Linked DNA regions of Homo sapiens. The protein of the gene in region 2 purifies or fractionates together with the protein of the main gene of each other region. This does not show direct contact. Each region holds a gene or a part of one and is shown on either strand. Other genes may lie near its edges.

Region 1 (3,824 bases), on a different chromosome or scaffold from region 2:
AAGTGATATTTGTAATTCGTAGTTTAATACACAGAAGCCACCTTTACTAAGTAGTAAATAGTATTTGGTAGCTACAGCTCTTATTTTATGCAAAAATAGTGTACAATATAAAAGTTTAAAAATTTCCTGCTGTTTTGATAGGGAGAAAATTTAGGATGAAGATAAAATATAAAGACAAACGTGATAATGTGATAAAAACTAACCCAAATATATATTTTGCTCAGATACACCTGTAAAATGTCTAGATTCTCCATTCTTTCCTTATTTAAAATAGAGTAGTTTGTTTAAGAAGTGGATTCAGTTAGAGATACTTTCACAGAAAGATGACCAAAATCTGCCTTATCTGGAAACACAAGTTAAAGTACTGTCTATATCCCTTATGAATCAACAGGCAGAGATTTTTAAACATCTGATAAAATACTTTCTGACATACATTTTCTTAGAATTACAAACACAGTTCTGCATCTGTTACATGTGCAAACAGAGACAGCCAGGCTTTGAATGCTCTAGGTAAGAGATTGTATTAACATATATTTTGTCTTTCAGCCATTCAAATTCAACTTAATTTCAGTGAACAGAGAAGAATATGGGTTGAAATGTACACTTCAGGATACAGATTTGCAGAATAAAATAAAATAGTGCAATACCAATCTCAGGATAAACACTCTTCTGTTGTTTTTAAGGAATAAGCATGAAAGCTGCTTCTCAAGGAAACTGGCACTGAAGATTTGATGAATACACTAAGCAAATACCCAGCTGATCAGGGTGTGATGCAGTAAAATTTGCATCTAAACCCAAGTGAAGCCAACAAATAAACTCTTATGGATTCTGAAAAAAAAAAAAAAATTTTGGCTCAAAGGGGCATAAATACACTTAGCATATACAGGCTTAAATACCACTGATCAAAATTGTAGAACAATTAACTCATTCATAAAGATAAACTCTTATTTATAAATTCTCTACTGCTACCATTATTTCTTTTTCTACCACACTTTGCAATCAACTTTTCTGCAAGATTAAAAAAAAAAAAATCAGGTTGTTCTTGACCAAGCCAGGAATCAAAAATAATGGTAACATATTAATAGAGCACACACAATTGGCTGTGGCTCAGACAGCAACACAACTGAATCACATTGACCTCATCAATCTAGAAGAAATTTTTCCCCAATCTTGCACAAATCAGCAAAATGTTATATCGTTACATTCTATTCTCAAGATATTTTCGCCAAGAAATCTCTATGAATGTGTTTACGTTCATAGAAACATTTGCATTCCACTGTCTAATAAATAATTGTATGAATTTTAAGATACAATTTAGTTCAGATAAAATTCAAGTTTACATAAACCTTTTGACACTAGTATATGAGATGGTTACCTTGATGACATCAACATTAGCACAATCTCATTTCCCCTCCATTTGTAGGCTTTTCAGAAATCAAACGTATTTAAGTAAGAGAATTTTCATGTTGGAAACATTAAGACTTTCATGGAATTAAAATTACAAAGAACTTCCAATGAACCACATATATGGAAGAAAGTCATCTCAGCAGATCTAACAGCTAATTTATAGAAATTCAGAGCCAGCCTGGGCAGCAGTATATTAAAAGCTATGGCCAATCACACACTTGCTATCATGCACTGAATAACAAGATATAATCTTTGAATTATATACGTACAAGATTTTTAATGACTAATCAAGTTACGTGGCCCAGCCAACAAATATTACATATTCACAATAAACATTCTGCCTTTATTAGCCTCTAATTAAATCAAGAGTGATCCATTGGCTCAGTTGTGTTAGTCATCTCAGCATCTTGACTATCCATCTCTTCAAGCTCCTCCACGGAATTTCCCCTTTGTGCTTTTGACCTTGTGGCAAAGGCTGCTCCCAGTGCATCTGCTACACAGCCATCAGTTGTTTCTGTATTCAAATTTTCAGTACCACCAGTTAAAGGAAAAGATTCAGGCAAACCAGTCTGAAGACTCCCAGACTTTGCAGAAGAACTCACAACTTCTGTTTTCCTTTGAGGAAGATCAGATGGTGACTGCTCTGTACTTTGATCCCGAAGGTGCCTGTCCATTGAAGCCTGAATAGAAGAAACCATTTCCTGCAATTTTTTTCGCTGGGCCTCAACCAAATCAGGATCAAGCTGCCTGCCGTCTCTCATTGTTACTACTCCAGGAGCTATTCGAATAAGCTCACTATTACTAGAAGAAGCTGTGAATACAGAAGGCTCTGTTTTAGTGGAACTATTACTAAAGTCTGTCCCTGTATTATGCTTTCTTACAACTGAAGTTTCCCTAGCTCTTGGATCAAGGTGTGGGTTACCAGATGCAGTTCCTAAAGAATGCCCTTTTCCCTGAAAGGCAGTTACGTTATGAAGTTGCTCAGATTTCTTTTTCACTACTCCACCACTACCTAGTTTTAATAGCCCATGTGAGGGACTTGATTCCCTACTTCTTGTAGTAGCCTCTGCTCGAACCTGACTTACAGCCTCTTTAACTAAATCTTCAACATCAGGACCAATGGGGAAATGTCCTGCAGCATCCACACACAATTCCAGTCTATCTTCAGAAGCATTATAGACAAAGGTTTTGCCAGGCAGATGTGGAAAAGTACAATGCTTGCCATCAGCCATACCTAAAAAGGGGAAAAGATATTTAACATATTAAAATCTTAAGGTATTAATAAAAGTGTAGTCAAGACAATTATAGTTAAAATAATGAATTTTAAATAACAATTTACAGATAACAGCTTTCAAAACAAAATTCATTCAGATTTATTGTATTACAAAAAAGAACCACCGCCATAGACCCTAAAGTAGTTCTCCCCAGAGAATCTTTTTTAAAAAAATTTTTTTGCTATCTTAACTAACAGCAAAGTTAAGAATGGGGCTTGAGGTCACACAGTGGCTCACACATGTAAACCCAGCACTTTGGGAGGCTAAGGCAGGTGGATCACCTGAGGTCAGGAGCTCGAGACCAGCCTGGCCAACGTGGTGAAACCCCAACTCTACTGAGAATACACAAAATTAGCTGGGCATGGCAGCAGGCGCCTGTAATCCCAGCTACTTGGGAGGCTGAGGCAGGAGACTCACTTGAACCTGGGAGGCAGAGGTTGCAGTGAGCTGAGATTGCGGCACTGCACTCCAGCCTGGACAATAAGAGTGAAACTCTATCTCAAAAAAAAAAAAAAAAAAAAGAATGGAGCTTGAGGCCAGGTGCAGTGGCTCATGCATATAATCCCAGCACTTTGGGAGGCAGACAGGTGGATCACTTGAGGTCAGGAGTTCAAGACCAGCCTGGCCAAAATGTTGAAACCCAGTCTCTACTAAAAATACAAAAATTAGCTGGGCATGGTGGTGTGTGAGCCTGTAGTCCCAGCTACTGGGGAGGCTGAGGCAGGAGAATTGCTTGAACCCAGGAGGCGGAGGTTGCAGTGAGCCAAGATGGCGCCGCTATACCACTATACTCCAACCTGGGTGACAAAGCAAGACTCCATCTCAAAAAAAAAAAAAAAAAAAAAAAAGGTTTTGCAGGTGTTTCCAGATTGCTACTGAGATGCTTTTCCTTGGCTATCCCTAGAAAGAATCATAGTTCCACACATGTTCATCACAGTATTACTTACAATGAAACAATGGAAAAAAATCTAAATTTTCAACAAGAAATAAGTAAATTATTTCCTATCTACCTGTTGGAAGTATATGCAGTTATTAAAATTTAGATAAATAGGCCCGGCACAGTGGCTCACACCTGTAATCCCAGCACTTTGGGAGGCCAAGGTGGGCAGATCATGAGGTCAGGAGTTTGAGACCAGCCTGGCC
Region 2 (3,824 bases):
ACCAAAATTCTACACTATTTCTGATTCCACTTTTTAAGACACAAGAAAATTCCCAAGATTTTATTTCTTACACTAGTGCTATTGCTACATTGTACAAAGAGAAGACCTTTAACTGAATATAGGATTGTTATCACAGGGTTCCTTAAAAAAAAAACCCCATCTATTATTATAATTCTTATTCATTTTATTTTTAGAGATGGGGTCTGTTGCCCAGGCTGGAGTACAGTGGCATGATCATAGCTCACTGCAACCTCTAAATCCTGGGCTCAAGAGATTCACCTGCCTCAGCTTCCTGAGTAGCTGGGACTACATGTGTGTGCCACTACACCTGGCTAATTTTGCACGGGATAGGGATGGAGGCCTGGCTATGTTGCCCAGACTGGTCTCAAACTCCTGGCCTTAAGTGATCCTCCCACCTTGGCCTCCCAAAGCACTGGGATTACAGGCATGAGCAACTGGGCCCAGCCTCTTGTTCTTTTAATTTCAGAAGTTGACACTGTGATTCTGAGATATTGTCTACTCTAAGAGCCTATAGCCCTTTACATACTTACAATAGATGACCCAATGAATGATGTCACCTTTTGTTTACAGCTGTTGTTCTCTGGGATTTCATAATAACATTGCTAGGCAAATGAGAAAATACCAGATCTTTAAAAATGAAAAGGAACCTGGAGTAAAAATTAAGTGATAATCTCCACCATCCCAGTATCACCATGCTGGGACTATCATTTCACCCTAAACAAATGCAAAGGTATGACACAACTACATAGGATGCAGAGCCACATTCCTGTTAGGCAACTCTGACAAAAAAGATTCAAGTGGCTCTACCTGCTCCAGAATTACTAAGACACTTTTTTCCTGGAAACCTTGGTACTGTCATTTTAAATAATTGTTAGGTATAGAAATACACAGAATTATCAAAAGTTAACTCTCCCTCCCACAAAGTGGTTAATTTTACATATAAAATAAAACAGCCGTCAAAATGTAAACCTTGCTATACTTAATGTGTCTGTAATAAATCATGAGATCAGGCAGCCCTCTGCTAGGACTGGCATAAGGAACAAATCAAAACACAGATTGCTCTGTATTTGTTTCTACTGCTGCTCTACCACAAAGTTAGAGGCTTAAAAGAACACAGATTTTTTTCTCCTACAGTTCTGGAGGTCAGAAGTCCAAAATGGATCTCTCTGAGCTAAACATCACAGTGTCAGGAGGACTGTGCTCCTTTCTGGAGGCTCCACGGGAGAGCTCATTCCCTTGCCTCCTCCAGATTCTGGAGACTGTGTGCATTCCTTGGCTTGTGGCCTCCTTCCATTTTCAAAGCCAGCAATGGATGTTTGAGTTTTTCCAATAATGTCAACTCTCCTGCTGTGACTCTTCTGCTTCCCTTTTCCACTCAGAAGGTCCTTGTGATTACACTGGGCTCACCCAGATGACCCAGGATAATCTTAATGTCAACATCAGCTGGTCAGCACCCTTAACTCCATCTGCAACCTGAATTCCCCCTTCCGTGCAGGATGAGTGAGAATCCCTTATCTGAAATGCTTGGGACCAGAAGTCTTTTGGATTTTTTTTTGAATTTTGGAATATTGTCATTACTTTTCATATACATCTTATATGCAGATTGAAGGTAATTTTGTATGTTCTAAATAATTTTGTGCATGAAACAAAGTTTTGACTGTTTTAACTACGACCCATCATGTGACGTTAGGTGTGGAATTTTTCATTTATGGTGTCACATTGGCACTCAAAAAGTTTCAGATTTTGGAGCATTTTGGATTTTCAGACTAGGAATGTTCAAGCTGTGTAACACAACAGATTCATAGGTTCTGGGAATTAGGATGTGAACATCTTTGGGGAGCCATTATTCTGCTTACTACCATCTCCAACAGTAATTAGAAAACAAAGCAACCTCAAGTGTACAAGCTACTCTCCTCCGATAAAGATTTTTAACTATTTTAATTTACAACAAATGAAAACCCTAAAGCTAAAAAAATAAAAAGAATGCTGTTAGGACAGGAGGCCTGAGATTGCTGCTAGTCTTGCTCAGCTGAGTGTGCTGAGTGGGGGATGGGAGAATGCATGCTTCCTTCCCGGATCATCACCAGGGTCGACCATGCACTCAGAAGCTTTTACAGGGAAATGCTTGATAACACTATAGTGAAAATTAGTATCAACGTCTTTTTTCTTTTTTGAGAAAGGATCTCACTCTGTCGCCCAGGCTGGAGTGCTGTGGTGCAATCTTGGCTCACTGCAGCCTCAGCCTCCCAGGATAAAGCAAACCTCCCACATCTGCCTCCCAAATAGCTGGGACTTCAGGTGTGCACCACTACACCTGGCTAATTTTTGTGTTTTTTGTAGAGGAGGGGTTGCATCATGTTGCCTGGGCTGGTCTCAAACTCCTGGACTCAAGCTATCCACCCGCCTTGGCCTCCCAAAGTGCTGGGACTACAGGCATGAGCCACAGTACCCAGTCTATCAATGTCTTTCAATAGCAATATTGAAATATATAATCTAGTTGTAATCCTCCACATGGTAAACCAAGGAGTTGATCATATGTTTGAACAGGTGCAATTTTTTTCTTTGGCAAAATTGCATACACAAAGACACAAATAGGGCCCAAACTGTGAGAAACATGCTAGATTCCACAAGCAACAGTGCAGTGATTAGACTCTGCAGTCAAGCTGCCTGCTTTCAAAATCTAATTCAACTATTTACCACCTGTGTGGCCTTAAGTACGTGACTTAACCCCCCTGTGTTTCAAGTAGGATCCTTAAAGTGAATTTTAGGAGTAAATGAGTAACAGTTTTAAGTACTTAGAACAAACCCTGACACATAGTGAATATAAGTATTTGTTAAATAAACTTTTAAATGCTCCTGCTTGCTGCTTATAACTTGCCAATGAAACTATATTTCAAGGGAGCAAACTTCTCAGCCCTAGCTAATTTACCATATGGCATATATTTTATATATACGTAAATATATTCAATGACATTCATGCAGAAGAACTGGTATATTACACTAACCAAAACAATACCCTTTGTTGCTATGAAAGTTTGGTAGCAACTACTGGGGTAGTAATAACTGGGTGGTTCAACAACTCGCTGAACAAATGCAAATATCAGAAGACAGTAGCAGCTGTGTTAAATAAACTGTCTCAGGGCCTCCTAAAGAAAGACGCACAGCACTGGCGAGGACAGTAGGGTTTGTGATTCTTAGTGGCCCGGGCACTTTCTGGGACAGTGGTGTTCATGGTACAATACTCCCCAGAAGCCTAAGCTCTGTGAGGGACAGTACCAGTTGTGCTAGACTACCGCTACCAGCATCTGCTAAGAGGGCAGGCATATTGTGACTGTGGCTTGAAAAGCTTTTCAGCATTCACAGCTGATGTTATACACTTCTTATGAAAGTTCTTGAATTCAATGGCAGTGTACAACCAACTTCAATCATTTTATTTTAACCCCAAAGGAAACGGGGAGGGAAAAATATGGGACAGGCTCCAGCTCCTATTAGCACAGCCAAGATGTAACACTTGAATGTGGATATACCATTCCAAAAGATACATGCCACCTTAACGAGAAAGAATGGTTCCATTTGACACAACGGGACTGAACTCTTTGTTTTAAAAGTTAGAAGTGCAGCTTATATGCAGAAAATAATGATTGCTGAGCCCTTGAATATTTACCATGAAGCAGGCATTACTCTCAATGTTTTATACACAGGGAGCCATGTAATTCGTATAGTCACCTTATGGGGTAAATATTATTTTACTCCCATTATACAGCCAAGAAATGGAGGTTCACCTGTGGAAGCTGCTCCAGGGT

Evidence for each region.
Region 1: the proteins of SGMS2 (region 2) and VCPIP1 purify together in Homo sapiens (co-immunoprecipitation; one large-scale study listed by IntAct). This does not show direct contact.

Annotation. Positions count from the first base shown.
Region 1 is NC_000008.11:66,632,732-66,636,555, forward strand, and holds part of VCPIP1 (deubiquitinating protein VCPIP1), read right to left. Parts: intron 2,642-3,824; coding exon 1,770-2,641; 3' UTR 1-1,769. UniProt on the Homo sapiens protein: Deubiquitinating enzyme involved in DNA repair and reassembly of the Golgi apparatus and the endoplasmic reticulum following mitosis. Necessary for VCP-mediated reassembly of Golgi stacks after mitosis.
Region 2 is NC_000004.12:107,831,398-107,835,221, reverse strand, and holds part of SGMS2 (phosphatidylcholine:ceramide cholinephosphotransferase 2), read right to left. Parts: intron 1-3,824. UniProt on the Homo sapiens protein: Sphingomyelin synthase that primarily contributes to sphingomyelin synthesis and homeostasis at the plasma membrane.